Linked DNA regions of Homo sapiens. The protein of the gene in region 4 interacts with the protein of the main gene of each other region in a biochemical or structural test. Each region holds a gene or a part of one and is shown on either strand. Other genes may lie near its edges. The genes, in order: DTL, PSMA3, GADD45A and CDKN1A.

Evidence for each region.
Region 1: of the proteins of CDKN1A (region 4) and DTL, one has a biochemical effect on the other in vitro, tested with the Homo sapiens proteins (3 studies listed by BioGRID, with this or other methods).
Region 2: the proteins of CDKN1A (region 4) and PSMA3 form a complex in vitro, tested with the Homo sapiens proteins (4 studies listed by BioGRID).
Region 3: the proteins of CDKN1A (region 4) and GADD45A form a complex in vitro, tested with the Homo sapiens proteins (3 studies listed by BioGRID).

Annotation. Positions count from the first base shown.
Region 1 is NC_000001.11:212,101,266-212,106,567, reverse strand, and holds the end of DTL (denticleless protein homolog), read right to left. Parts: intron 3,727-5,302; coding exon 3,628-3,726; 3' UTR 1,555-3,627; downstream 1-1,554. UniProt on the Homo sapiens protein: Substrate-specific adapter of a DCX (DDB1-CUL4-X-box) E3 ubiquitin-protein ligase complex required for cell cycle control, DNA damage response and translesion DNA synthesis.
Region 2 is NC_000014.9:58,254,843-58,263,378, reverse strand, and holds part of PSMA3 (proteasome subunit alpha type-3), read right to left. Parts: intron 5,635-8,536; coding exon 5,533-5,634; intron 5,455-5,532; coding exon 5,381-5,454; intron 2,432-5,380; coding exon 2,359-2,431; intron 1-2,358. UniProt on the Homo sapiens protein: Component of the 20S core proteasome complex involved in the proteolytic degradation of most intracellular proteins. This complex plays numerous essential roles within the cell by associating with different regulatory particles.
Region 3 is NC_000001.11:67,680,105-67,688,965, reverse strand, and holds GADD45A (growth arrest and DNA damage-inducible protein GADD45 alpha), read right to left. Parts: upstream 3,766-8,861; 5' UTR 3,472-3,765; coding exon 3,428-3,471; intron 2,942-3,427; coding exon 2,840-2,941; intron 2,617-2,839; coding exon 2,379-2,616; intron 1,306-2,378; coding exon 1,192-1,305; 3' UTR 632-1,191; downstream 1-631. UniProt on the Homo sapiens protein: In T-cells, functions as a regulator of p38 MAPKs by inhibiting p88 phosphorylation and activity.
Region 4 is NC_000006.12:36,681,714-36,689,368, reverse strand, and holds the end of CDKN1A (cyclin-dependent kinase inhibitor 1), read right to left. Parts: intron 5,273-7,655; coding exon of another isoform or gene 5,268-5,272; coding exon 4,823-5,267; coding exon of another isoform or gene 4,724-4,822; intron 3,918-4,723; coding exon of another isoform or gene 3,859-3,917; exon of another isoform or gene 3,619-3,858; coding exon 3,569-3,618; 3' UTR 2,037-3,568; downstream 1-2,036. UniProt on the Homo sapiens protein: Plays an important role in controlling cell cycle progression and DNA damage-induced G2 arrest. Involved in p53/TP53 mediated inhibition of cellular proliferation in response to DNA damage.

The DNA.
Region 1 (5,302 bases), on a different chromosome or scaffold from region 4:
TTTCTCTCAAATGCTGACTCTGGCCTACTGAAGTATTAAAGTGACTCCTTTGGCAACTGAAAATAAAGAAAGGAACTCTTTGCAGACCAGGTGCCTCACACACAGGGCTTGGCACCCAGGTGATATGTAAATGTTGGCTGACTTAAACGCCTTCCAATCAAAGGCATTTTGAAATGTGCTATTCATATTTCACAAAATGGCTTGAATATAAACTATTCAGAATGTCAAAACAAAGGGGCATGTGGCAAGTTAAGGAAATTAAAGAGAAATGGAGTACAAATGGAATATTAAACCTTTTACATTCAAAGTGAAGAACCTGGTTGCATACCCTAAAAATCCTCTTTCCTGGCTTAGCAAGGGATGAACTTTGGGGATCAAGTAAGCCTATTCTTTAATAACACAATATCTCTCATTTGTGATGTATATGCTTGCTGCAGGCATACCAATATAAACAAGCTGCTTAATATGCTCAGGTGATTTCTTTTTTAAAGGCTGAATTTATCTTATATCATTTCTTAACAACCCCTACACTTTTTAGCTTGCACTCAAACACAGCTCAGAAATAAAACAGGTTTTGCTACCACTTTAGGGAACAAAATGGTTAACTTATAACAAGCTGGGGTCGTATTCCAGGCATCAAAGCATTAAACTTAACTCAAGTCCAACAAAATGTGTTCAGCCTGCCTATAACTTCCAACCAATATCTAAAGAACTGATGCATAATCCAATTTTTTTACCATAATCCCTGAGAATTTTATGAGTAATGGGTTAATTGGTAATGTGGCATGATCCAAACCTAGGGCAGGCAAAGAATTCCCTGTGAAGACCTGTGTGAGAAGCAATGAGATCTACTGCAAGAGCTCAACTGGGCCTACATTTAGCCCTTTATGGAATTATGAAGCAGAAACCACTTGTGTTGAATTGCCATAGGGAGGAAATTAACTCAGTTTTTCTAGTACAATGTTTTCACTCAGTCTGTCTTCTGACACACATTTGTAAAATGTTGCCCACACTATCTTAGTTGTGGAATTTATTTTTCTCTGTTAGACTACTTGGCCTTTGCTTTAAGAGCAATGTAAAAGGAACTAGGGACTAGGAAAAGCAGAAAAACAGACTTAAGAGCAGTAGTGTGTTGGCTATGACAGGCTCTCAAAAAGCATTTGTTGAACCCACACACTACCTATGTTATGAACATGGCCATAGGCTAATTTCAAGATGGGAGTTAAAGCTGTTTTAAGCTGTTAGGGCTGGGGATGGGGATAATGGGCTGACCCTCAACACAAGAGTAGCTACACATGGTCTTGATCCAACATCAGTTAAATGTGCAGTCCAGATGAAGAGACATTTGAAGACACTAATCAGTCATCCTCACAAAATTTAATTAAGGGCCCGTGTTGAAACAGCCAAAAGCAAACTCTAATACGGGATCCTAGCAATAGTGCTTGGAATGTATTCAAATGGAAAAGTTTGTGCTGGAAATACTTGTTTAGAAAAAGAACTACATCACTCCACCCTGCTTTATCAAGTAATCCAAGCCATCTTAAATGCTCAAAGTCTGATCCAAGCAAGATGTTTTTTATTAAAAGCTCTTTCAGCTTGAAATAGATTATAACTTTGGGAATAAACATTTTAATGAACAAGTAGAAGGGATTCTTGACTACTATAGTTCTTTTTTGTAGACTGCTTCTAGGTAATGCAAAAAGCTCAGAAAAGGACATCAGATAAGGTAAAAGGCTTTATTATTCAGGATCAGCTCAAAGTCTGACATGGACACAGGCAGGGATAATTATCTCATTACAGTTGACCTTTGGCACCCATTTAAAAGTACTAGCTTTCCAAGTGAGACATGTTATACCCAGTAGACTCGGTATAATTTCTGACAGCCAAATGTATCCCAATTTCACTCAGTAGGGCTGCCAGGAGATGGGTAGGGATACAAACAAAATCATCTACTTTATCAATCTTTTTTTTTTCATGGATTTTTTTCCCCCATTGGCTTTCAAAGCAAGTGAGATAAACAGCGTTACTGGCAGATATTGGTCATAAATAACATCTTCCCAAAGCCCAACAGTCAAAAAACAAACACCAAATATAAGCAGATTAGGCAGATTTCCTAAATATTCAGTTAAGGCTATGGTGTGCTTGGTTTTGACCAGAGCAATTCTATGGCTTCCTTTTATTTTTCTCCCTGGATAAAACTATGCTTACTTGATCCATGCAATTTCAGTTGTTACAGCTTTAACTTATAAGATCAAAGGAATTAAAAAGTTGTCAGAATAGATTTTCAAATAATGACAAAAACTGACATAAAGTCTACACAGTCCTCAGGGATATGGATAAAACAAATGAAGTTTCATGACTGGAAGGGGGCTCCCTTCTAAGTAAATAGTACATAGAAAGTATGTAAAGCCTCTTTCCATGAGGTTACAAAGGTGAAAAATATAAAACAATGGTTCAAGATCACTGATACATAATTGTTGAATAAGGGGAGGGATGTTTAAGATATTTTGCACATTATTAACTTAGAGTCAGTCTATACACTCTCTGTATTAAATATCTAGAGAAAATTCTATTACTTTTTGGCTCAGGGCTATCTATACTAAAAGGCTATTGCTTTTTATGTACATGAAAAGAAACTCAAGATTTATGTTTCTGGTTCTGGATTTTCAGTTAAGAGCTATATTCTGTTACAAAAATATCAATAAGAAATCATCACTTTTTTCTTAAAATCTGATGACTTATTTTTTTTAAAACATTGCAGCCCCTAAAGAACTGATGACTGCACCTGAATTCAAACCCCAAATTGATTTCATAAAACATCTTCCTCTAGTAAATGGCAAAAATCATAACCTCCTGTAGAAAGTGATGTTGGGTTGGCTGACATAGCAGATTGCTTGGTGAAAACATGGGGACCTGAAATCTCATACGGGAGATATATTTGAGAGAAAAAAGACAAACACAGCTTTCTGTTGTTGTTCTCCTAGTTTCTCCGAAGAGTTGACATTTATCACTGCATTTAAAATAAAGATGACTTTAACTCAAGAGACTGCATTTTAACACTGAACTGATATAAATGTACTTATCTGAGCATCACATTTTTACACATACTTAAAAAAAACCCCACAAAAGCATAGTGAAAAGATTATGTATTTCAAATAAAATTATACATGTTGGAGGCAGAACAGAACCAGGGGTCTTCAGCAGAGGATTTCTCAGTCAGCCTTCACAGGCCTCATGCTGTGGCTGGCAGATACTTTCCACTGAGCATAGAAAGTTTCAGGATAACAAGAAACTTGTTTTTTGCCTCCATGAACTGGGATGTCATTATTATAGAGAAGATGAATAATTTAAAAAGTGAAGACTATTCATTCAAAATGCTAGAGTGACAAATTTACTTTATGAAATTTAAACACAGCATTCATCCTCGGGAAGCTGCATATACATTATGGTAGTAGAACCAGATTAGGTACATTTCAGCGTTGAAAAGATTTTGTCTAAAAATGAAAAGGCAGCTTTCTTAAAGACCAGAGTTATAGAGTCACTCTTGTATTTTTCATCTTGTTTTAGTGGACCAAAGCTCAGCTTGTTTTAGTGGACCAAAGCTCAGTAACTCACTCAGATTAGAATCTATAATTCTGTTGAGTGTTCAGGACCACAGAAGTCCTCCTGGGACTTTCTATGGAAGTATGTGCAGATTTTCCTCATGGAGCTGGGCGTGATGGTGACCTAGAAGAAGAAAGTTTAGATTTCAGAGATTTCCTTGAAGTTCAACTGTTACTAAGTTATTACTAAGGCATACCTTAAATTAGGCTGCCAGAAATTTCATTGTTTAGCCTGCTTTCAGCTCCAAATACTTTCAATGGCAATGTCTCTTTTGGCTGATTTGTACTGACTATAGTAAAAACTTAACAGATGATATGTAGGGAAAGAAGGCATAGACTTCTTATGTGAATAGAAAACATTTACTAGCTAAGTCTCCTAATAAGAAACAAATAAGTTACAATTACTATCCTTTTTGAAATAAATGAATAAATCAGCCCCCCCAATTTATAAACAAGATAGGTATTCAAATGGAAGATGTTACTCTCTTCTGAAGGTTGACATTATCATCATATAAAGGTAAAAAATTTTTAAGAAATGTTAGCTTCAAATAAATTACAAGACCAGCACACTGTTTCTACTTTTTAAAGATTTTAAGATTTATGTATCAGTGAAAATAGTTTTTCATTGAAACTACTTTTCTGCTAACACATAGCTGAGACCAGCTCCCTTGAAAAAAAAAATAGAAATTTTGGCTAGGGATAAAGAGCAGTCATAATTTTGAGAGAAGGAAAGATTCCTTATAACTGTCTTTTTTCTCCACTTTCTACAGCAAGGTCTTGATTGCAGTTTGTGTACTAAGTTGTCTTTAAAATCTATCAGTTTATTTTTCTAAAATTATGGGATAGGTCTTCATGAGAGCAGGTCGGGGTTATGAACACTTTTTAAACTAAAACTGGCCTAAGGTTGGTTATCTAGCTTCTGCCCTTTAAAATGGCAGATGATGCTGATCATGATTCTGGATTCTATTTCAATCATCCCGCCACCACAAGAGCTACTGTGAAGTACAGTGGAAACTTCCTTAACCCATCTCCCCTTCACATGCAAACAACAGAAGCTTTTTATTCTCTCTGACTGGTGCCCATAGCTCACCCAATGCACTCAGCTACTTCTGCCTCCACCACTGTAATGAATCTTGTTTTTCAAGGTTCACAAACCTATTTCTGCCATCAATCACTGATGACTGATATTATCTAATTTAAATATTAAGTCAGTCAATGAAATGAGTCCTAAAAAGATAAGTGACACTACACTGAATGTTAAAAAGAATAGATATAGGTGTCAAAAGTATTACTGTGGTGTGGCAAAATGATTATAAAAGATTGTGGAGAAGTCATAAAAATCTAGAAAGATTTTGCACTCAAATTGTTTTGTAAGTATCTAAGTTTCACTGTATTTTAAATAATCACAAAATGGAATTACAAACTGGAAATCTACTTATGGATGTTGGCAACTTTCCCATGAACAACAGCTTTATCTATAAAAAGAGGATGGCATACTGTCTAACAGGAGAGGGGAGATATTTTTGAATTGATATCCTGGAGCATGATGAAGGCTTTGGTCAATCAGGCAACAGGGCTGAGGAGTATGGACCCTGACAGGAGGGATTTTAATGGGAGTAAGTAGAGTTGCCAGATAAAATACAGCACATTCAGTTACATTTGAATTTCAGACAAACAAAAATAGTTTCTTAGCATAAAAC
Region 2 (8,536 bases), on a different chromosome or scaffold from region 4:
CTGAGAGACAGAAATAAAGTTAATTCCTATGAGTTCAGTACTCTAAACCCCCAATTTTATTATTTTGTAAATTTTTTTAAAGATAAGGATGCACAGCTGGGTGTGGTGGGTCATGCCTGTAATCCCAGCACTATGGAAGGCCAAGGTGGGCAGATCACCTCAGGTCAGGAGTTGGAGACCGGCCTGGCCAACATTGTAAAACCCTGTCTCTACTAAAAATACAAAAAAATTAGCTAGGTGTGGTGGCAGGTGCCTGTAATGCCAGCTACTCCAGAGGCTGAGGCAGGAGAATCGCTTGAATCTGGGAGGCAGAGGTTGCAGTGAGCTGAGACCGCGCCACTGCACTCCAGCCTGGGCAACAGAGTGAGACTCCATCAAAAAAAAAAAAAAAAAGGATGTACACATATATACTTCTGTTACAGCAAAATATATTTAAGAATCTTCATTTTCTTCAATTAGTAAAAACGACAAAAATGTAAGGATAAGAAAACAGTTAAGAAACGGTAACAGGCCGGGTGCAGTGGCTCACACAAAGTGCTTGTAATCCCAGCACTTTGGGAATCTGAGGCACGTGGATCACTTGAGGCCAGGAGTTCCAGACCAGCCTGGGCAACATGGTGAAAGTCTGTCTCTACTAAAAATACAAAAATTAGCCAGGTGTGATGGTACAGGCCTGTAATCCCAGCTACTTGAGAGGCTGAGGCACAAGAATCCCTTGAATCCGGGAGGCAGAGGTTACAGTGAGCCAAGATTGCACCACTGCAGTCCAGCCTGGGCAACTGAGCAAGACTCTGTCTCAAAAAAAAAAAAAAATGGTAATAATTTAGGGAAAGCTCTTAGAAATCACATTTAAACCTTCTCTTTAAAAGGGAAGGCAGGGCAAGGTGGCTCACACCTATAATCCCAGCATTTTGGGAGACCAAGGTGGGCGGATTACTTGAGATCAGGAGTTCGAGACCAGCCTGGCTAACATGGTGAAACCTCGTCTCTACTGAAAATACAAAAATTAGCCGGGTGTGGTGATGCATGCTTCTAATCCCAGCCTACTCGGGAGGCTGAGGCAGAATTGCTTGAACTGGGGAGGTGGAGGTTTGGCGCCACTGCACTCCAGTCTGGGTGACAGAGCGAGACGCTGTCTGAAACAAAATTAGGTCCGGCACTGTGGCTCACGCCTGTAATCCTTGCACTTTGGCAGGCCGGGGTGGGCAGACCACCTGAGGTCAGGAGTTGGAGACCAGCTGGCCAACATGGCAAAACCCCATCTGTACTAAAAATACAAAAATTAACCAGGCATGGTAGTACATGCCTGTAATCCCAGCTAATCAGGAGGCTGAGACAGGAGAATTGCTTGAACCTAGGAGGCGGAAGAGGTTGCAGTGAACCAAGATCGAGCCACTGCACTCCAGCCTGGGAGACAGAGTGACACTCCATCTTATAAATAAATAAAATAAAAGGGATGACATGGCTGGACATCGATGCTCACGCCTGTAGTCCCAGCATTTTGGGAGTCCAAGGCAGGAGGACTGCTTAAGGCCAGGAGTTTGAGACCAGCCCTGGGAACGTGGAAAGACCTTGTCTCTATAGACACCAAAAAAATACAAAAATTAGCTAGGCATGGTGGCATGAGCCTGTAGTCCCAGCTACTTGGGAGGCTTAGGTAGGAGGATCGCCTGAGCCCAGGAGTTGAGAGGCTGAAGTGAGCTATGATTGTGTCACTGCACTCCAGCCTGGGCAAGAATGAGGAAAAAAGACATTAAATACAGTTTTAAGACAGTGTTTATAGTAATAAAGGAAAATCACATATTCAAAATACTATATGCACTATACAGTTTCTATAAATAACATACTGAAAAAAAATCTTTCCTCTGCCTCGTATCAGTTATTAATGATAAGAAAACATGGCTGGGCCTGGTGGCTCACACCTGTAATACTCGCACTTTGGGAGACCCAGGTGGGTAGATCTCTTGAGGACTGGAATTCAAGACCAGTCTGGCCAACATGGCAAAGGCCTGTTTCTACTAAAAATAAAAAAAATTAGCCAGGTGGTGCACACCTGTAATCCCAGCTACCCGGGAGGCTGAGGCAGAAGAACTGTTTGAACCTGGGAGGCAGAGGTTGCAGTGAGCTGTGATCACACCACTGTGCTCCAGCCTGGGCCACAGTGAGACCCTGTTCCCCCAAAAAGGAAAAAAAAAAAAATTCTGTTGGACAAGAGGTTGTTGTAAAAAAAAAAAAAAGAAAAATTACTTTCCTTGAATGAGTTTTTTTTTAATTTCATATAATCTTATAATGAGACTTAAATGCTAATGAAATACCATTAAACTAAAATAGAATTTCAAATGATTCAAAATTACTCACGTATGAAACACCTGATGGGTCAATCATGTAGAGTTGCGCACCGTCATTCACACTGTAAGACCCTAACATGAAACTGCATGAAAGTATACAAACAGCTTAAACCATGGCAATAACATAAAAGTATTTGTGAAAAAATTATTTTAAAATGCAGTTATATTTTCTTTCTGAGATAAATTACTAATACACATATAACTCAGTAAGTACTTTGAAACAGTGGTTTCAATTAATTAAAACTATTACATGAGATTATTCAAAATTCATGTAGCTTTTGTTTGTTTAGTATTAATCTTTCTGATGAAGGTCTCCTGGAAAGTCTAGCAGTACAGGGAAAGGAGTAACGATAGATGAAAACCACAACTATGAGAGGGCCCAATAAATAAGGCATAAACACAAAAAGATCAAGGGAACAAAATTCCTGACGGAGAGTATACTGAATCCATGTGAAATTCTTTCCACCCTTCATTCTATTTCCCAATATCCTGCCAATCATTTCTCTGCAATAATCAGAATTGGTTCAGTGTATTTTTCTGTGCTCAACAAATTAGGCTATTAGCTGATTGTATGAAATACTGATTTTCTGAAATTGTGACATACAGTGGGCACTGTTTCCATGAGTTCTGCATCTGTGGATTCAACAAACCACAGATAGAAAACTTTCAAAAAACATTGCTTCTGTACTGAACAACTGTGATTTTCTTGTCATTATTCCCTAAACAATACAGTGTAACAGCTATTTACACTGTGTTAGGTATTGCAAGTAATCTAGAGATGACAACATACAGGAGGATATGCACAGGTTATATGCAAATACTTAACCATTTTATATCAGGGACTTCAGCAACCTTGGATTTTGGTATTCATGGGAGGTCCTAAAACCAATCCCCCACAAATACCAAGGGACAACTATATTTGCCTTAGAGTAGAAAAGAAATCAGCAGCATCTTACACATCATCTTATATGCGGAATATTTTAACTATTCAATTCCCATCCCTACCGTCATTTCCTTCCATTTTCTACCGATATGAGACTTATCCTTCAGGATATATAGCTCATTGTCACTATTTTAAAGCCTTTCAACATTTCTTTGAAGAAAATCAGCATGGAGCACAGACTTTTATATGACTGGACCCCTTCCTACATCAGTATCATCTCTAAACCTCATACTCTACACACCAAGCATACTTAACTCTCTCTGGCGCACGTATTTTCATACCAGTTCCTGTGCTTGCAACTACCAAGTCTCCCTACATCTCACACTCTTCCTTGCCTCCTGTCCAGAAAGAGTCCGTTCCCTAATTGTTGTCCCTTTATCATATCACTAATATTTTATCAATGTGACTTCACACCTGTGTCTCCACATTTATGACTAACTCAGTGCCCAATAGATGTTTACTAAAAAAGTTCTCTCTGGCCCAGTGCGGTGGCTCACGCCTGTAATCCCAGCACTTTGGGAGGCTGAGGTGGATCACTTGAGGTCAGGAGTTTGAGACCAGCCTGGCCAACATGGCGAAACCCTGACTGTACTAAAAATAAAAAAATTAGCCGGGCGTGGTGGCAGGTGCTTGTAATCCCTGCTACTCAGGAGGTTGAGGCAGGAGAATAGCTTGAACCCGGGAGGCAGAGGTTGCAGTGACCTGAGATCGTGCCACTGCATTCCAGCCTGGGCGACAGAGCGAGACTCCATCTCAAAACAAAACAAAACAAACAAAAAAAAAGTTATGAAAAAAAGTTATCTCTACTATTCTTACTCCCTTAAAAAGAGTAGAGAAGTTAACTGATGAACTCAGAGCTCAGTTGAAAGGTATTTTACATGGTCTGAAAACAAAGTGTTTCATAATGTAATTTAACTGAGAAGCTTAAGAATGACTAATGTCAGCCTGGGCAGCATGGTGAGACCCCGTCTCTACAAAAAAAAATTTTGTTAATTAGCCAGGCATGGTGGCCCATGCCTGTGGTCCCAGCTACTTGGGAGGCTGAGGTAGGAGCATCGCTTGAGCCAGGTCAAAGCTGCAGTCAGCCATGATGGCACCACTGCACTCCAGCTCAGGTGACAGTAACTGTCTCAAAAAGTAAAAACAAAACCCTAATGTAATATTACCAATAGAATAAAACTCAAGTTTTCTTTAATATCTTAGTAATTAAATATGACTGATGATAAACAACTCAAAGGTAGGACTACAGCTGAGCACTCAGATGTTAGTATATGTATTATTTTGACCAAACATGTTTGACTGTTTTAAGTCATAAGCCAAACATGTCTTTTCATTTTAGAAAAATCTAGTCACAAGTCTTCTCTGTGAAGCCAAATTTGAATATTTATACCTATTCCAGGTCTTTATGCAGCTGAATCTCCACTTTACCCCACAATAAAATATCAGCACTTCAACAGAAAGAGAAACCGTGCCTAATGGGAATTGTGAGACGTAATTTTTAAAATTACCTAAGAATATCAGGGACTAACACCGAGAGCTTATTATAATCAGATTAAAGTCATTGTTATCAGTTCCTTGTTTTATAATCACTTCAGATCTATATAGTCCTTTTCACTATTGAAACCTTTTTTTTTTTTTTTTTTTTTTTTTTAAAGAGGCAGAGTCTCTATTGCGCCAGCTAGAGTACAGTGGTATGGCCACAGCTCATTCCAGCCTTCAACTCCTGGGCTCAAATGATCCTCTCAAGCAGCTCCTAAGTAGCTGTGACTACAGGCATGTGATACTGCACCTGGCTAAATTTTAAATTTTTTTTGTAGAGATAGGTTCTCACTGCGTTGGCCAGGCTGGTCTCATACTCCTGGGCGCGAGGGATCCTCCCACCTCAACCTCCCAAAGTACTGGGATTACAGGCTTGAGCCATGGCACCCAGCCTCAAGTAGTTTCTATGTACACTGTTTTATTTAATCATTGCCCTAATACTTATCGACGAGTTTCTATTTTTAAGTATGTAAAAGGCTAAGATGCTGGGGAACATAATAAATATCTATAGTACAGATCTGCCTTTTGAATAATTCACAAAATTTCTTACCTGCAGCCAAAAGGTCTAACAGCACTGTAGAGTGTATATGCATGCACATACATGGCCACTCTGTCTGCAAGATGCTATGGAGGGAAGCAGAAGAGCTTATTAATAAACTTCTATTACTGTCCAAAAGGTTCCTCAATATGTTATCAACTTACTTTTAGTGGAATGTTGTAGCCAAAGTTAGATCTGAAGTTGGAAGCTTCTTCTCTTGCTATGTCTGCTAAAGAACGAGCATCTGCCAACAAACCTGCTACTGCCTGAAAAAAAAGCACCAATTTACTAGAGGAACACATTCCTATCACAAATCAAAGTCTGCAATTAATAAAGACTTATTAAACATTTTTTTAACAAGTATTACCATTCAAAATAAACTTTTTTGGCTTAAAGGTCTCTCTACAAGGCATTTTGATGCTTGAGTATGAAATTATAATTTAGAAATTTAGTAAGTATAACTTCATTGCTTTGTCCAATGTTCATATTCAGGACATTTCCTTTTTTTTTTTTGATACGGGGTCTCGCTCTGTCACCAGGGCTGGAGTACAGTGGCATGATCTCCGCTCACTTCACACTCTGCCTCCTGGGTTCATGCCATTCTCCTGCCTCAGCCTCCTGAGTAGCTGGGACTACAGGCGCCTGCCACCACGCCCGGCTAATTTTTTTGTATTTTTAGTAGAGATGGGGTTTCACCATGTCAGCCAGGACGGTCTTGATCTCCTGACCTCGTGATCTGCCTGCCTCAGCCTCCTAAAGTGCTGGGATTACAGGCGTGAGCCACCGTGCCCGGCCAATATTCAGGACTACTTCTATCATAAATCCTCTTCCCCTGATTTACTACCACTACCTCATTATAACGAATAAAAACCATGGGTCTTGGTCAGATTTTTTTTTTTTTTTTTTTTTGAGACAGAGTCTCACTGTGTCACCTAGGCTGGAGCACAATGGCACCATCTGGGCTCACTTCAACCTTTGCCTCTCAGGTTCAAGGGATTCTCCTGCCTCAGCCTCCCCAGTAGCTGGGATTGGCTAATTTTTATATTTTTAGTAGAGACAGGGTTTGGTTTTGTCATGTTGGCCAGGCTGGTCTTGAACTCCTGACCTCAGGTGATCAGCCTGCCTCAGCCTCCCAAAATGTTGGGATTATGGGTGTGAGCCGCCGTGCCCGGCCCAAATTTGTTCTTTTCTCTAAAGTTATTACAGGTTGAGGATATCTAATCCAAAAATCTGAAATTTAAAACGCTTCAGAATCTGAAACTTTTTGAGTGCCAACATGACACTCAAAGGAAATGCTCAGGCCGGACCTGGTGGCTCACACCTGTAATCCCAGCACTTTGGGAGGCTGAGGCAGGTGGATCACAAGGTCACGAGTTCAAGACCAGCCTGGCCAAGATGGTGAAATGCCGTCTCTACTAAAAATACAAAAATTAGCCAGGCGTGGTTGCAGGCACCTGTAATCCCAGTTACTTGGGAGGCCGAGGCAGAGAATTGCTTGAACCTGGGAGGCGGAAGTTGCAGTGAGCCGAGATCGCGCCACTGCACTCCATCCTGGGCAACAGAGCGAGACTCCATCTCAAAAAAAAAAAAAAAAGGAAATGCTCAGTAGAGCTTTTTGGATTTTGAATTTTCAGATTAAGGATGCTCAGCTGATGAGTATATAATGCAGATATTCCAAAATCGAAAAATATCCGATATACTGCTGGTCCCAAGCATTTTAGACGAGAGATACTCAACCTGTAACTGTTTTGTTCTAAAAGGCACAATCGCAAATCTTTTTTCAGCCTATTGGCTGAATAAACTACAATGATAAACCATTCCTCTTTCAAGATTTGCGGCTTAGAACTGCAGTTACTAGGCCGGGCACGGTGGCTCATGCCTGTGATCCCAGCACTTTGGGAGGCCGAGGCAGGGGGATCACCTGAGGTCAGGAGTTTGAAACCAGCCTGGACAACATGGTGAAACCCCTACTAAAAATACAAAAATTAGTCAGGTTTGGTGGCGGGCACCTATAATCCTACCTACTCCCAAGGCTGAGCCACAAGAATCACTTGAACTCGGGAGGCGGAGGCTGCAGTGAGCCGAGATCACGCCACTACACTCCAGCCTGAGCAACAGAATGAGACTTTGTCTCAAAACAAAAACAAAAACAAAAACAGAATTGCAGTTACTATGTATGTGCCGAGAGGTCCTCAGGCACTGCAGTGAAATCACATGTTAGTGTGGCATATCTTTTTTTTTGAGATGGAGTTTTGCTCTTGTTGCCCAGGCTAGAGCACAGTGGTGCAATCGCGGCTCACCGCAACCTCCACCTCCCAGGTTCAAGGGATTCTCCTGCCTCAGCCTCCCGAGTAGCTGGGAGTACAGGCATGCGCCACCACGCCCGGCTAATTTTTGTGTTTTTAGTAGAGACAGGGTTTCTCCATGTTGGTCAGGCTGGTCTTGAACTTTCGACCTCAGGTGATCCGCCCGCCTTGGCCTCCGAAAGTGCTGGGATTACAGGTGTGAGCCACTGCACCTGGCCTAGTGTGGCACATTCTAAGTTTGGAGAAAAATGTCCAAGTAGTTCCGTTTGAACATTAGATCGTTTTACTACATTCCTTTCAATGCCACCACATCTTTGAGAAGCTTGGCTGTTAGTGGTTGCTGTGAAAAAAAGTAAGTACTGTGCAAAAATCAGTGTGGAACAGGAAATGACAGTGGCCACATCCAAATTTGGGAGGTTGTGCAGTGTATATACTAGAAATTTTGGTTGCTTAAAATAAAACATTTTAATTTTTAAATAAAAATATTTTTCACTATGTGTGTATTTAAAAAAAAAAAACGGCTACTAAGTTTTTAGGATGTAAACACTAAGTTCTTTGGATCTAAATACTTAATAAATGAAACCATTAGGTATTTTCGGCCTAGGGAAGCCATGAGAAAAACTACTGAGACACTTAAGGTACCATAAACCAACCAAGTTTTTGAAACCCTCTAGCCCAGGACAGTTACAGAATTTAAAAGTGGTATCACAATCTTTAATAGCCTTTTTTTCCTACGCTACCCAGTAATAGTAATAATGATAATTACTAAGAGATACTGAGCACTCATTACATGTTAAGCATTTTGCATAATAATTTTTAACCTCACAACAACTGTATGTGCCAAGTACTATTATCACTCTTG
Region 3 (8,861 bases), on a different chromosome or scaffold from region 4:
CTGCTCATCCCAATAATCATCTTTCACAGACCCCGGTGTTACTTTCCTAGAACACTGATCATGCCACTTCCTTCAGGGGCTCCGCTATCTGCCTGAAGTTTACAGAAGGAAGCCCAAATGCATAAGGGTAACACAGAATGCCTTCACAGCCTGGGCCTAATCCCCACCTTCCTTTTCAGCCCCGCTGCTCCCTTATCTTTCTACACCAGAGGCACACACACAATCACTCTGTTTTTACTGACCTGGTTGTGGTCTTTCAGGCCTCCACACCTTTGCACAAACTAATGCAGCTGCTAGCAATATCCCTTTGCCCTCTGTAACTAGGGAAATAAAACTCACTAAGACCAACATAAAATGATCTCTCTTCAGTAAAAACTGGTAGGTAACTTTAGTCACTCTGTCCTCTCTGCCTCCTCAACATTTTGTGTATAATCTTATTACGGCGCTAATATCATTTATCTTTAATTATTCAAATTTTGCAAGCTGAATCTCTAACCATCCCTTTTTCCTGACAACTCCAACTCCTTTAAATCACCTGCTTTCTGATTATAGACCTGGTATACAGCAAAGCGTCAGTAAAATGTGTTTAATAAAGTACAAGTTAAAAGAAACAAGAGCACACAATAAGAAATGATGCAATTATTCATACCAGTTTATTGTAGGTATTGTGTTTCAAAAAATTTATAGCATAAATAACTTTTCATGTCATAAAATAACTTAGTAGAATTTATAATAAAACTTTGAGAATTTAATATCTCATCAAAATACAATAAAATATGGTTTTCAAATATGATTAACCCTTTCGGCTTTTCTTTTACTTGAGGGCATATAAACCAAAAATACCCAAACTATGGCTGCACACTTAAACTTTAACATATTTGGTTTATTTTAATGTAACTCAACCATTCTAAATTAATACATAGTTTTCCTTCCTGCATGGTTCTTTGTAATTTTTGTTCCTTTTGACTTATTTTTCTGTTTCAACACAGCTTCCTTCTTCATTTTCACCTCTTTCCATCTGCAAAGTCATCTATCTCCGGGCCCCCAGAACATGTAGTTGAACTCACTCAGCCCCTTGGCATCAGTTTCTGTAATCCTTGCATCAGTGTAGGGAGTAACTGCTTGAGTAACTACAAAGGTATTTCAAAAACTTCAGTGCAATTTGGTTCAGTTATTTTCATTCAGATGCCATCACCGTTCAGGGAGATTAATCACTGGAACCCATTGATCCATGTAGCGACTTTCCCGGCAAAAACAAATAAGTTGACTTAAGGCAGGATCCTTCCATTGAGATGAATGTGGATTCTGGAAACAAATTTATAAAAATAAACTTATTTTAAAAACCAGTATATTCTAGTAATTATACTTTTGAGGAGAAAACACTTGAACATTCTATATTTTGGCTATGTGACATGGAGACAAATTAGAAGCACAAAAAAATTAAAGTTTCTTCAAGGTAGTTGGGTTCCCTGCAAAAGCGTTAAGGGTAATTACCTATTAAACTACACATTGCAAAGTCTGAACCCATGCAACCCAAGCTGAACCACATACATATGTTTGCATATCTGTTCAGTTTTGCATGAGAGTATCATTCACCGGTTTGCTCTACCAAACTTGTTACCCTGACCTGAGTGAAACAGTTTTGAGAAAGATTTCCATGCTGTGTGCACAATGAGATGAGAGCTGCACAGCAGTTAACTGGAATTGCCATCAACCATACTCCAAGAGACAGAATAGTACTTTTAAGGAGTAGCAAAATAATCGGGCTGTCACTTGACTAGACCAGTCAAAAAAGAGCAAAATTTAGAAGACAAAAGTAGCACATTTACCCCTGAAAACATAACTTCCCTACCTACCAAAGGTTTTTATCAGGAAAAAAAAAAAGAGCCATTAAAAAAATGCAAGATTGCAGAGAAAAAAAATTCCACTCTATCCTCTTAATGTATTTCTAGGGAATTAACAAGGTTTGTCTCCTACACAATTTCTATTTTTAGCTCTGACTGGCAGAGAATGAAGCTGACTCCTTAATGAGGGGTGAGCCAGGAATTCATTTGGCTTTATCTAATCTGCCCTGCTAAAGGAATTAGTCACGGGAGGCAGTGCAGATGTAGGTAGGGAGTAGCTGGGCTGACTGCTGACTCACAGGGATCTCTTCCGCTGCTGGCAGTCCCCAGCATGCTTAGACATGTTCTGTACCACAGAAAATCCTGGTGATGAAACTAGCACATCTCGGCTGAAAGTCCAGCCACACTCTAGTCGGACAAAGGCAGCCACCCTCCTGACCCCCACCTACCACAGATCCACAATCAGGCAACCCAGCCCTGACTCCCGTCCTTCCGGGGCTCTACCCTGCAGGCTGCAGTCCCCCAGTCCCTTACCGTCACCAGCACGCAGTGCAGGTCCGGGGGCTGCTCGGCGCCCTCGCTCGCCGCGGGGCCAGCGTCGGTCTCCAAGAGCAGGAGCTCCGCCAGCCGGCCCGGGTTGCTGACGCGCAGGATGTTGATGTCGTTCTCGCAGCAAAACGCCTGGATCAGGGTGAAGTGGATCTGCAGAGCCACATCTCTGTCGTCGTCCTCGTCCGCCGCCAGCAGGCACAACACCACGTTATCGGGGTCGCTGGGGGCAGCGGGCGGGGCCAGTGAGCGCAGAAGCGCGGGCGCCCTCAACCACTGCCCGGGTCCCTGGGGGTCGCCGCCCGGCCCGCTCGCCCCCTCCCTTCCGAGACAGGCAGAAAAGCGACAGGAAGTGGCGCGGCCGGGCGAGGGGCGCCCAGCCAAGGCGACCTCCCGGGCTGGGGCGGGAAGGGGTGCCATGGGGGACGCGCAAGGGCCCCACTTACACGTTGAGCAGCTTGGCCGCTTCGTACACCCCGACAGTGATCGTGCGCTGACTCAGGGCTTTGCTGAGCACTTCCTCCAGGGCATCCCCCACCTTATCCATCCTACACGCGGGCAAGGGCGAGGGGTCCCGTCAGCCCCGGTGCCCTCGGGGCCATCGCCGCCCCCCTCGTCCGGTACCACGCCCCTCCCTCTCGAATGCAAGCACCACCGCGCACCTGGGCTCTACGAAAACCCGGCGCTCCCGCGGCCCCGTCACCCCCCATGACCCCTGCACGCCCAAGGACCGGGCGTCCCGTGAGAAGTCCCGAGAGTGCCCCTGCCACAGGCTGCCAGCCACGGGAGCCGCACGGGCAGCGACGGCCACTGCTGCCCTTTGCAAAGGCCCCGGCGGGGCTCGTTCGGGTTGGGGGGCACGCTCTTTCAGTCCGTGGGAGCTCCACGGAGAGTCCCGAGGGAGCAAGGGCGGGAGTTGCCCTGTGCAAACTTTTTAGCTTCCTCCCCTGCAAGCCTTCCACAGCCCGGCTGCACCGGGGAGCGCGGGGTAGGTAAGAGAAGTTCGGGCCGGAAGAGTCCGCAGGCCGACTCACCTTTCGGTCTTCTGCTCTCCAGCCGAGAATTCCTCCAAAGTCATATTGCAAACTGCAGGTCGCCCAGGGAGAGAGCGCGGCGTGCGGGCTGCTCCTGCCACGGCTAGCGCGCGGGCGCCTGCTTTCTGCACTCACTCACAGGCGCCGCTCCGGCAGCTCAGGCCCTGGCGCTCTCCGGCCGCCCCTCGCCCGCCCGGGCTCCTCCTCCTGTGCCAGCCGCCGCAGCTCCGGCCACCCCTCCCGCCTTGCTTGCTCGCTCGCTCCCCGGACCTCGCCTCGCCACGGGCCGCACGACACTAATTGGGCCGCTGCCTCCCAGCCACTGCCTACCAGCCACTGGAGGACAAAGGGCCCCGCTCTCCGGGGTTATCCTGCCAACCCTCAGCCAACCACCTTCCGCCTCATTTGCATGCAGCTTGGCCATTGGGCTATGCAAATCAGCCTGCTCCAGCAATTTGACCCCAGCTCCTGGAGTCAGGTTGAGAGGAGCGGAAAAGGGAGGAGCCACGCGGGAGGCGAGCCGAGGGGGCGGGGGCGGGGGCGGTGCCGAGAGGGGAAGGCGGGTCCCGCGCGCACTCTTATCCGGTTGGCGGGGACCATTGGGAGTGGGGGGCTTTAGCAGAGGCTAGAGGTGGCCTCAGCTTGGGCTGAAGCAGGCTGCCAAGTGTTTTTCTATAATAGTTGCGGCACTTTTTTCTTATTATCTTTTCATGTCTTTTGTTTTAAGGGGTGGCTATTAAAATCTATTTCCAGGGTTAATGCACTGAAGTCTAGTAATTATTAGTAAGCAGGTTACATTAAAAAAGTGTCTCCAGACCTCCGGGGCAAAGTTTACCTCAGAAGTGTTGTTTATCTAAGTCTAGGCGAAGCTGCTTATTAGCAGTAGTATTATTTCGGTGCCCTGATGGCTGGTTTGATTTATTTTTGGAAAGCTGCAAGGGTTGGAAGCTGAAAAAAGAAAAACCAACCCGTTTGTATTCAGGGATGGCAGGGAACCAAGTTAGAATCTTTTCCACAGAAAGCAGAACGGTTTCCCACCTGCCCGGTGTAACTGGGAAATCGTGAGCTGGTCTGCGTGGGGAGCTGGTGACCACATGTGGGAATCCCTGGCAACCCAGATTCTCCTTTCTCAAAGAGCCTTGCCCAAACAAGGATCCTTCTGGACGCCCACCAGCTGAGAGACAACCATCTGACACCCACACAGCCCACAAGTCTAAATTCAAAATGCTCTCGATATGCCCTAAGCTTCCTTTCCTAACGTATGTATGTCGTTACCTTCCACAGAGAGCCTCCTATGATCTCACTGTGAATTATTGATGTTAGATGCTGAATCATGAAGCTGTAACTATAGGAAGTTTTTAGTCATATGCTAAAATTTCACCTTTGAGATAATGGCAACTTGTAGGTGGAAAGCAGACCTTTAAAACTGCAAATGGTAGTTACACATTTTTGAAAAACAAACTTTAATATATAGACTCTCACTGAGTAGTTCAAAAGTCCCTTCCTTTGTTTTATGGTTTATGCAATAAAAGCAAAAACATTTCTTAAACCTACTGAAGTCATCAAAAGTGGTGAAAATGGCTCCCACATGCTTGCATTCAAAACAGTGCTTGCATTATTAAGGTTGCTGTACAGCCAAAGGTCACAGAAGTAATTTCTGCAAAGGTACCTGGAAGTTTTGCACCCTTATGTTTTTATCACTCTAGACAAAATATTCTCCAGCTCTCTTGATCTTAATTTGGTGGAAAAGAAAAGTGATAGGTTTTCTGGTTCATTTATTTGAGTTGTCATTTTGCACTCATTTTTTCACTGTGTTGTCAGCCATGGACAACATTTGAGTAAAGAAATGGTCATGGTCAGTGCATAATTCACCTAAGCATGACTATGTATCTCATATCTATGCCTTAAATCTTAACATTTGATGTCTTTCTTAAAGAATTCCTCAACATTGAAATTTAGGTAGGTTACCGAAGCATTTTCAGTTTTGCAGACAAAACCTGAATTACACAATCTAGCCTGAGTCATCATTTGGCGATTGTTAATATGTTCCGTGGAACTCCAAGGTTCTATCCACTAGGCATTTCTTAGAGGTTCTTGGGAAGAAAATGTGATCACAGCAAGCTGACAAAGAATTAGGGAATCATGTGAGTTTCTTGACAGCAAGGACTTCATCAGTTTGGTGTCCTCAGCTCCTAGTACAATACCTGCATTTAGTAGAAGCACAGTCAAGGTTTATTGAGTTGAATAGAATTTGAGAGTTAAATAAGATATCAGAATCCTGCAGTCCTGTGCATTGCATGAATTCTAACATATTGCACATTTAACGTTAGTTCAAAAACACTTTTGCCTGTCTTCTTCTATACCAAGAACTGTACAATTCCTGGTCCTTTGCCTTTAAAGAGCTTAGGCTCTTATTGGTATGTCCATGCTTGAACTGGATTTTGGGACAAAATAGTATGCACTGTCATCAGCTAGCTATGCTGAAAGTCCCATGACTTCAGTCATCTGAATGGAGGCTGTAGGACAGTAGAACCGGTGTATTGTTTACACCAATTCAAATGAACCACAGTCCTAAAGTGCCCCACCCAAGTCGACTATATCCAGTAAAAATGTGATATCAAATGGTTACTTCTTATTATAGGCTTAGTCCTCCACTCAAAAATTATACTGCATGCTATATTTGACTTCATCAGAAAGTTATTTGCCCAAGTATTTTGGGGATTTTCTCTGAGATAAGCTTGGGCTTCCAGTATGCAAAAATATTCATTTGTCATACTTTCTGACTCAGATACGTTACATCATTTTGCCTGATTGCTGAGTATACCTAGAATGTTTTCTCAGTGATTATCTTCAAAGTTGGGCCTCATGACTGGAAGTAAAAACTGCATTTAGCTACACAGTTAGATTGTAGTTACACATTAGAATGGACATAGTTGATTTATCATTAACTGTTTATTAGTCCTGGAGGACATTGATAGTCAATGGTAAATCAGAGAAATTTTCCTATATCAATATTATATATATATATATATTTCTTTATAATCAGTGTGATAACTCCAATATGTGATGTCATTTTAAAAACCACTACAGGTAACTCTGACAACTGCCAAGTACACAGGAGTAGAATGCTCTTGTAGTAATGTTTGTAAAGATACCAAATGATTATATTTAGAAATCATATGGAAATATATACTCAAGAATTGTTCAATTATTTTAGCACTGCTACTTGCTTTGCATATTAAAGATCTTTTTGATATTTTAGTCATGCTTATCCTACATACATTCCTACTACTGGTTCCATAATGCAGAATTATTCTTTCTTTCTTTCAAAAAACAATCAATGCTTTAACATCTGAAAGAAATATAATGCTTGTTATTTCAGTATTAGATCATTGTCCACATCAAAGGAGAAGATCAGTTCAACTATGATGGATGTATTTTCCACCTACCTAGAATTGTATTGTATTATTTTTTCTTGTTAAAAATCATAAGGTTCCTGGTCAGGTGCAGTAGCTCACGCCTGTAATCCCAGCACTTTGAGAGGCTGAGGAGGTCGGATCACCTGAGGTCAGGAGTTCAAAACCAGCCTGGCCAACATGGTAAAACCCCACCTCTACTAAAAATACAAAAATTAGTTGGGGCCAGGTGTGGTGGCTCACACCTGTAATCCCAGCACTTTGGGAGGCCAAGGCGGGTGGATCACCTGAGGTCAGGAGCTTGAGACCAGCCTGGCTAAGGAGTTTGAGACCAGCCTGGCTAACATGGTGAAACCCCAGCTCTACTAAAAATACAAAAATTAGCCAGGCGCGGTGGCAGGCACCTGTAATCTTAGCTACTCGGGAGGCTGAGGCAGGAGAATCACTTGAATCTGGAGGTGGAGGTTGCAGTGAGCCGAGATGGTGCCATTGCACTCCAGCCTGGGTGACAAGATTGAAACTCCGTCTCAAAACAAAAACAAAAACAACAACAAAAAACTAGTATAATATTCTTAATGCCATCTTTTTTGTGTGTTCAATAAATCCTTATCCTGTGGAAATTCTCTTCAGCTATTAAGAATCATGGTAGTAATCATAGTGTTAATTTGAGCTTTGGGCTGGCCACCTTGTGCTGCCATCAGCTGCTCACATTTCACCAGCCAAGCAAGGCCCAGCCAGTGGAGAAGTCAGATGAAGAGACTAACTAGAACATTCTTCAAGATCAACACCCCCTAACCCCTCACCTCTCTGTCGGTGCGTATCAGAAGGCTTCTATCATGGGAGGAATGTTCTGAGAGTCTCTGCTTTGTAGCCTAATCACTGGTGAGGGAAGTAGGTGGTCTGAGTTGGTGATTGGCCACTGGTAGGTTGTTTTTGCACCTTGAACAGATTTGTGAGTTTGCTTTTTTTTTTTTCTTTTTTGAGACAGGGTCATCCTCTGTCATCCAGACTAGAGTGCAGTGGCACTGTCATAGCTCACTGCAGTCTTGAACTCCCAGGCTCAAGCGATCTTCCTACCTCAGCCTCCTGAGTACCTGGGACTATAGGCACATGCCATCACACCAGCCTAATTTTAAAATTTTCCAAAGAAACGGGGTCTTGCTTTGTTGCCCAGGCTGGTCTCAAACGCCTGGGCTTAAGCAGTCCTCCCACCTTGGCCTCGCAAAGTGCTGGGATTACAGGTGTGAGCCACTGCGCCCAGCCAATTTGTGAGTTTTCTCTCTCTGAAATAAAAGAAACAATTCTATTCACCCATCAACTTCATTGCAAAGTTTTCTTCTTCCTAACTTCTTAACAGCTCATGCTTATACCTCTTCTCTGTACTCACTCTCTTGGTGACCTCATATGGTCCCATGGCCTTAATTATTTATATGCTGATGACTCCCAAATATATTTCAAACCTGGTCAGTCATCTCTTCTGAACCTCAGCGCTTATTCATCATATCTGCATCAATATATAGTAAGCATCTTAAACTTAAAATGACAATTGTTGCTCTCCTGATTGTCTGGCCAAATCTGTGCCTACAATAGGTCAATGGCAACTCCATTCTTCCCACTGTTCAGCCCCCCACACCTTGGTGTCATTCTTGATTCCTTTTTCTCACAACCACATCCAGTCCATCAGTAAATCCTATAGGCTCCATTTCAAAATGTAAAATAATTCAACCATTTCTCATCACCACTACCACCAGCATCATCTCCCACCTAGGAAAATGTAACAACTGGTCTCCCTCTGCTTTTGCCTTTCCTCCCTTCACCTCCAGCAGCCGAAGTGATCCTGTAAATAGTAAGTCAGATCCCAGTCAATTCCTTAACCCAAAGTTATCAATGGCTTTTCTTTTTACTCAGAGAAAAACCCCTAGTCCTTACTATGGCTTAAAATACCATATAAAATCTGTGCCCATGATGAAAATGTCCTAATATTGACAATGGTGACAATTGTACAAATCAGTTAATAT
Region 4 (7,655 bases):
TCAGGAAAGGGGATCAAAAGTGGTTCACATCCACTTTCCCTACAACAATTTAGAGATCTATCAAATCATTAAAGTTTTAAGTGGTCAAATAAACTGGGGCATGCTGGGTCATTCCCTCTGTGGTAAAGGACAACTTAGTATATCTTGCACCTCTTACCATTTTTTTTTCTTTTTTTTAAATTATACTTTAAGTTCTAGGGTACATGAGCACAATGTGCAGGTTTGATACATAGGTATACATGTGCCATGTTGGTTTGCTGCACCCATCAACTCATCATTTACATTAGGTATTTCTCCTAATGCTATCCCTCCCCCAGGCCCCCACCCCCCTCTTACCACTTTTTAATTTGGGTTTCAGAGGCAGTGTACTAAAGATCACTCCAGCCCATTTATTGGATGATTTAGTAAGCTGCCATGTTTAAGCAGCGGCCGGAGCAAGAGAGGGCTCTGAAACAGGTGCAGGCTATGGGACAAGCACTTGGGTCACACGCCCCAGTGTATTCCCTGGTCCTGGACTTTTATCTGTGGATAAGTAGACAGTTGTGAAGTCCCTGGAAGTCCCCTCTGGCGGGGAGAGTCTCGTTTCAGAACTCTATGATTCTAGTAGAAAGCTCTGCCCTGTGCAGTAGAGAATTATTCCACATTTGAAAAGTAGTTCTGGGCCAAATTGCAGTGTTGGGAGCAAATAAATGATTATTGTTTTAAGCCACTCAGTCTTGGGGTGGTTAATTATGAATAGACAACCAGAAGATGCATGCAACAGCACCTTGTTTTTTGTAATGTTGGATAACTTTCCACTATATAAATATACCACAATTTGCATATCTATTCTGTTATGGACATTTCAGTTATTTCTAGCTTGGGTCTGTTAATAATAATGCTGCTGGAAGCATTCTTTTGGTTTTTTTCTTTTTGAGGGAGACAGACAAGGTCTCACTCTGTTGCCCAGGCTGGAGTGCAGTGGTGCAGTCAGGGCTCACTGCAGCCTCGACTTCCCAAGCTCCTCAAGTGATCCTCCCACCTCAGCCTCCCAGGTAGCTGGGACTACAGGCACGCTCCACCACGCCTGGCTATTTTTTTTTTTTTTTTTTTTGTAGAGATAAGAGTCTCGCTATGTTGCCCAAACTGGTCTCACACTCTTGGGCTCAAGCCGTCCTCCTGCCTTAGCCTCCCAAAGTGCTGGGATTATAGGTGTGAGCCACTGTGTAGAACATTCTTATGCCTTTTTCAGTGGAAATATGAACTCATTTCTCTCGAGAACATGTCCAGGAATAGAATTACTGGGTCATGAGGTAGCCATGAAGGTAGGCATCTTTAGAAGATATTACCAAACAGTTTTTTATTTATGTATTTATTTGAGATGAATCTCACTGTCACCCTGGAAGAGGCTGGAGTACAGTGGTATGATCTCAGCTGACTGCAACCTCTGCCTCCTGGGTTCAAGTGATCCTCCCACCTCAGCCTTCCAAGTAGCTGGGATTACAAGCGTGCACCACCATGCCCAGCTAATTTTTGTATTTTTAGTAGAGATTTCACCATGTTGGCCAGGCTGGTCTTGAACCCTTGGCCTCAAGTGATCTCCTGCCTCAGCCTCCCGAAGCACTGGGATTCTAGGTGTGAGCCACTGCGCCCGGCCCAAACAGTTTTTTTAAATAAGAGATCCAGTTGCTCCATAACCTTGCCAATGCTTGGCACTGTCAGTCTTTTTTAATCATTCTGGTAAGTGTATGGTGGTATCTTATTGTGGTATCTTAATTTGCATTTATCTGATGAATAATGATGTTAAGCTATAATATATTCTTTACAAAAAGATTACACAACAAACCAAAATATTGACATTGGTGATCTTTGCAGAGGTGTGACAGTAGTTTTTGTTTTGCTGTTGTTTTTTGCAGCAGTCTTTCTGTTTGCTAAGTTTTCTGCATTCTCTAAATTTAAATGCTTAATTTTTAAAATTATTTAATTATGAAATCCTTCCCAAAAGCCCATTTATTTGTTCTTATAAGGTATAATAACCACAATAGTAATATTACAAGTAAAGTCACTAAGAATCATTTATTGAGCACCTGCTGTATATTCAGCATTGTGGGAGGAGCTGTGAAAGACACAGAACAGTACAGGGTGTGGTCCCTGCCCTCGAGAGGTTTACAGTCTAGGTGGAGAAACGGGAACCAGGACACATGGGGAGCCGAGAGAAAACAGTCCAGGCCAGTATGTTACAGGAGCTGGAAGGTGTTTGGGGTCAGACCCCAATACTCCAAGTACACTAAGCACTTCAGTGCCTCCAGGGGCTCAACGTTAGTGCCAGGAAAGACAACTACTCCCAGCCCCATATGAGCCCACGTGGCATGCCCTGTCCATAGCCTCTACTGCCACCATCTTAAAATGTCTGACTCCTTGTTCCGCTGCTAATCAAAGTGCAATGAACTGGGGAGGGATGGGGTGGATGAGGAAGGTCGCTGGACGATTTGAGGGGCCAGTGTCTCCCTCCTAGAAAGATCTACTCCCCCATCATATACCCCTAACACAGAGATAACCCCACTCAAGGGGGCCTGTGCCACCACATGGGACCCTCACCCCCACAGCTAGAGGAGGGGGCGGTCGCTGCTTGAGCTGCCTGAGGTAGAACTAGGGTGCCCTTCTTCTTGTGTGTCCCTTCCCCTTCCAGTCCATTGAGCTGGGGGTGGGGGTGGGACAGGCACCTCAGAGCCACCTGGAGCTGAGAGGGTACTGAAGGGAAAGGACAAGGGGGAGGGACAGCAGCAGAGGGGAATTGCAGAGCCCAGCTGGAGAAAAAGGGTAGCTGGGGCTCCTCAAAAGGTACAGGGGAGCCAAAGAGGGAAAAGGCTCAACACTGAGACGGGCTCCCCAGTGCAGGTCAGAGGGGCCATGAGGGCAGGCGGGGTGGTCTGCTCCAGGACCCCACCTTCCCCCTGCCTTCACAAGACAGAGGGGGGTATCAAGAGCCAGGAGGGTACCAGGTCCCCAGCTCAGCCCTAGGCTGTGCTCACTTCAGGGTCACCCTGCCCAACCTTAGAGGAGGTGAGGGGACTCCAAAGTTTTTGATGATGCCCCCACTCGGTGAGGCCCCTTCAAAGTGCCATCTGTTTACTTCTCAAATGAAAAAGAATTCAGGTCTGAGTGTCCAGGAAAGGGGGTGAATTTCATAACCGCCTGTGACAGCGATGGGAAGGAGCCACACCCCTCCAGAGGGTACCACCCAGCGGACAAGTGGGGAGGAGGAAGTAGCTGGCATGAAGCCGGCCCACCCAACCTCCGGGAGAGAGGAAAAGGAGAACACGGGATGAGGAGGCTTTAAATAGTATTTCATAAAATAAAAATGCCCAGCACTCTTAGGAACCTCTCATTCAACCGCCTAGTTTTTGTTTAAATAATTCTAATGCCAGAGGCTGGGGGGCAGGGGGCGGCCAGGGTATGTACATGAGGAGGTGTTTAAATTAAAACACAAATAATAATTAAGACACACAAACTGAGACTAAGGCAGAAGATGTAGAGCGGGCCTTTGAGGCCCTCGCGCTTCCAGGACTGCAGGCTTCCTGTGGGCGGATTAGGGCTTCCTCTTGGAGAAGATCAGCCGGCGTTTGGAGTGGTAGAAATCTGAGGAGAGACAGCAGAAGTCAGCCAGGCCAAGAAGAAGAGGACGCGGCGGAGCTGCCCAACTGAGGAAGACAGTGGGGGGCCAGGACACCCTTCCCTGGGGCCAATGGGGCCGACTGCTGAGAACAGGAAGAACTCGGGGAACGTCCACTCTGTCTCTTGAGGGGTATTATGGAGTGTCCCACCATGCTTCACAGATGTGATTTTATCCATCACCGCACCCGCACCCATGGGTCTGCTCTAAGTCAAGCTGCCCAGCAGAGGAACCACTACTAGCTCTGTGTGCTTGTTTAAACAGACTACAATCAAATAAAATGAACAATTCAGTTCCTCAGTCACATGAGCTGTGTGTCAAATGCACAACAGCCGTATGTGGCTCGTGGCCCCTGTACCGGACACTCCCATCCCTGCAGAGTTACTGGACAGTGCTGATCTAGGGATTCTGTTACAAAATCCATGAAAGTGTTCAGCACAATGCCGGGCCCATATAAACGTCAGTAGTTGTTGTTATTATAATTAGTCTTGACCCAACGGCAAATTCACTTTGAGACCTTAGATAAATCACTCTACCTCTCTGAGCCTGGTTTCCTTGCCCTAAAAGGATGGCAAGGGGCTGGGCATGGTGGCTCACGCCTGTAATCACAACACTTTGGGAGGCTGAGGCAGGAGGACTGCTTGAGCTCAGGAGTTCAAGACCAGCCCGGGCAACATGGTGAGACCTTGTCTCTACAAAAACTCAAAAAATTAACCGGGCGTAGTGGTGTACAACTATAGTCCCAGCTTCCCAGCTACCCAGGAGGCTGAGGTAGGAAGATCGCTTGAGCCCAGGAGTTTGAAGCTGCAGTGAGCCATGATCGTATCACTGCACTCCAGTCTGGCCAACAGAGTTAAGACACCTGTCTCAAAAAGAAAGGCGGGCAGGGTGACAAGAATGTCTTATGTTATAACATTGCTATAAGGACTAAATAAATCTACCTTAGAAGCTTGGCAAAGGGCCTGGCATAATGAACATTCCCAATAAATGTTAGCTAGTTGGTCTTTGCTGCCTACTTGCTGTGTGACCTCAGGGAGGTTGCTTCCCCTCTCTGGGCCTGTTTCCTTCTACCTGGAGCATGCTGGACCAGGACCAGACAGGTCAGCCCTTGGACCATGGATTCTGAGAATCCTGGTCCCTTACAAAGTCCTTCCGTGCACATGTCCGCACCTGTCATGCTGGTCTGCCGCCGTTTTCGACCCTGAGAGTCTCCAGGTCCACCTGGGGACCCTTCAGCCTGCTCCCCTGAGCGAGGCACAAGGGTACAAGACAGTGACAGGTCCACATGGTCTTCCTCTGCTGTCCCCTGCAGCAGAGCAGGTGAGGTGCCAGGCCGCCTGCCTCCTCCCAACTCATCCCGGCCTCGCCGGGGCCCCGTGGGAAGGTAGAGCTTGGGCAGGCCAAGGCCCCGCACACGCTCCCAGGCGAAGTCACCCTCCAGTGGTGTCTCGGTGACAAAGTCGAAGTTCCATCGCTCACGGGCCTCCTGGATGCAGCCCGCCATTAGCGCATCACAGTCGCGGCTCAGCTGCTCGCTGTCCACTGGGCCGAAGAGGCGGCGGCAGGCCTTGCTGCCGCATGGGTTCTGACGGACATCCCCAGCCGGTTCTGACATGGCGCCTGCAGCAGAGATACAAGGAAGGCCCTGGTCACGGCGGAGATTAGACACTATGTTACCTGGCCGGGCTTTGCTGTGTCACCTCAGGTGACGTCTTCCTACCAGAGGGTCTCTCTCACTCCTTCCAGCTGGTCTTCCTGCTTCCTTCCCACAGGAGGCCTGACCCCCACCAGCAGAGCTCAGCCAGCCTGGCACACCAAGGTCACTGGGAGAGCAGGCAACTGAAGGGCAAGCTAATGTCAACAAAGGCAAGTCTATTGCAAGAGCAAGGACCAGGGTCCTGTTTGCCACCAGGTATTATCAGCTAAAATCAATTTGTTTTCCCCCCAGAGGTGTCCCTCATGGGTGTGAATGCCCCCCAAATATGTGTGAATTGCCAGAGTCCAGCAGTTTCCTAATCGCAGCCCTGGCCAGAAGGTCAATTCCCAAAAGAAGAAACAGTCTGACAGTTCCTCCAGCCTCCTAAGTCCCCCGACCCAGATCCCCAAGTAGGGTAACCCTGCTCTGCCAAGTAAAAGTACCCGGGACTTTGGGGCAAAAAGCACCCGGGTTGTGGTCCTAGCTCTGCCAGTTACTACGTAAGCTTTAAAAAGCCACTTAATGTCTCTAGGTCTCAGTTTCCTCATCCATAAATGGGGCCATGTACAAGTTTAAAGAGCATGGCTACAGACACATACTCAAGAAATTGATCACAGAGTCCATGCAGCAAGGCAGACAGAACAGAGCTGAATGAAAGGCTGTATCCTGGTGGTTAAGCAGGAGGGCTCTGGAGCCAGATCACCTGGGCTGGAGTCCAGGTTTTACTAGGTGACCCTGGGCAAGCAACTTAACTTGTCTGAGCTCTAGTTTCCTCATCTATAAAATGGGGATAGTAATAGTGACTGTCTCAGAGGATAGACATGAGAATTAACTGAGTTAATGTAGGTAACGTGCCAGCAGCACTTCGTATAGAGAAGTGCATTGAAAACAGAAGTATGATTATTCCTCTCTGCCTTCAGTTTTACTGAGCCTCCCCCCTATCACTTCCCCCTGCCAACTACCTCCTTCAGACAGCAGCTGACAGGTGCTGTAGGCTGAGGGCCTTTCCCAAGGATGTCGTCAGGCGGGTGGCCTAGGGGTAAGGAGGGGCCGGGCGGGGCAGCGCAAGGGATGATTTCTCCCAGGCTGAGCCACATCCTGCCAGGCACATCAGGTGATCTGAAGTCTAGACACCTGGCAGCCCCTGCCTCGTGTTGCCTGTGTCCAAGGAAACCGTTTTGCAGGCAAAAAGAAAATTAAAGGTGGCTGGTCTACCTGGCTCCTCTCCTCCCCCTTCAGGAGAGGGAAAACGGAGAGTGAGTTTGCCCATGAGGGAGCCCTGGCACCTACCTGCCTGCTCTGGCTTGACTCCAGGGCTGAGTGACTGCACGACCTTGGCAGCAACTGGATTTTCCTAGGGACAAGTCCCAACTTGCAGTTTCTGGGGGTGAAAGCTCTGCTGAGTCCTCATGAGGCAGGAAGCCCGGGACACATGCCACATCTGCTCCACCCCACCTCACCCCACTGCTTGTGATCAGTGGAGCCCACAGTTTCACGTCCCAGCTGGTTGGGAGAGGAGGCTCTTGGTAACTTCACACCAAGTTTAAAGGGCAGGAGATGGAAGAGATATGAGACTTGCCCCTGAGTCATACAGCTAAAAAGGCCAAAGGCCACTGCCCCATAAAGGGGTCACCCAGTACAGTGGACAGAGCCCTCAAATAACCTCTATCCACCCTCTGCTAGGCATGAGTTGGGATTTATTTATATATTTTTATGTTTGGGGGCTGTTCTAAGCAGTTTAAAAATATCAATCCTCCTAAAAAGTGGATATCTATTAGCTCCCTTTTTACAGAAGAGGCAACCAAGGCTCAGATAAGTTAAGTAACTTGCCTAACATCACACAGTTCATAAGTGGCACAGCCAGGATCTGAACCCAGGCCTGTTTGCCCTGAGTCCTGTGCTGTAGTATTGAACCCCACTCCCTCTCTAATTTTGAGGTTTCTTAACCAGAGAGGCCCATCACAATCACTTGGGGAGGCCAGGGGCAGTGGCTTATGCCTGTAATCCTAATACTCTGGGAGGCAGAGGTGGGAGAATCATTTGAGCCCAAGGGTCCAAGACTAGCCTGGGCAACTAGCTGAGACCCTGTCTCTACTAAAAATAAAAATAAATAAAAATTAGCTGGGTGGTTGGGTGCAGTGTCTCACACCTGTAATCCCAGCACTTTGGGAGGCCGAGGAGGGCGGAGCACGAGGTCAGGAGATTGAGACCATCCTGGCTAACACGGTGAAACCCCGTCTCTACTAAAAATACAAAAAAAAATTAGCCGGGCATGATGGCAGCACCTGTAGTCCCAGCTACTCGGGA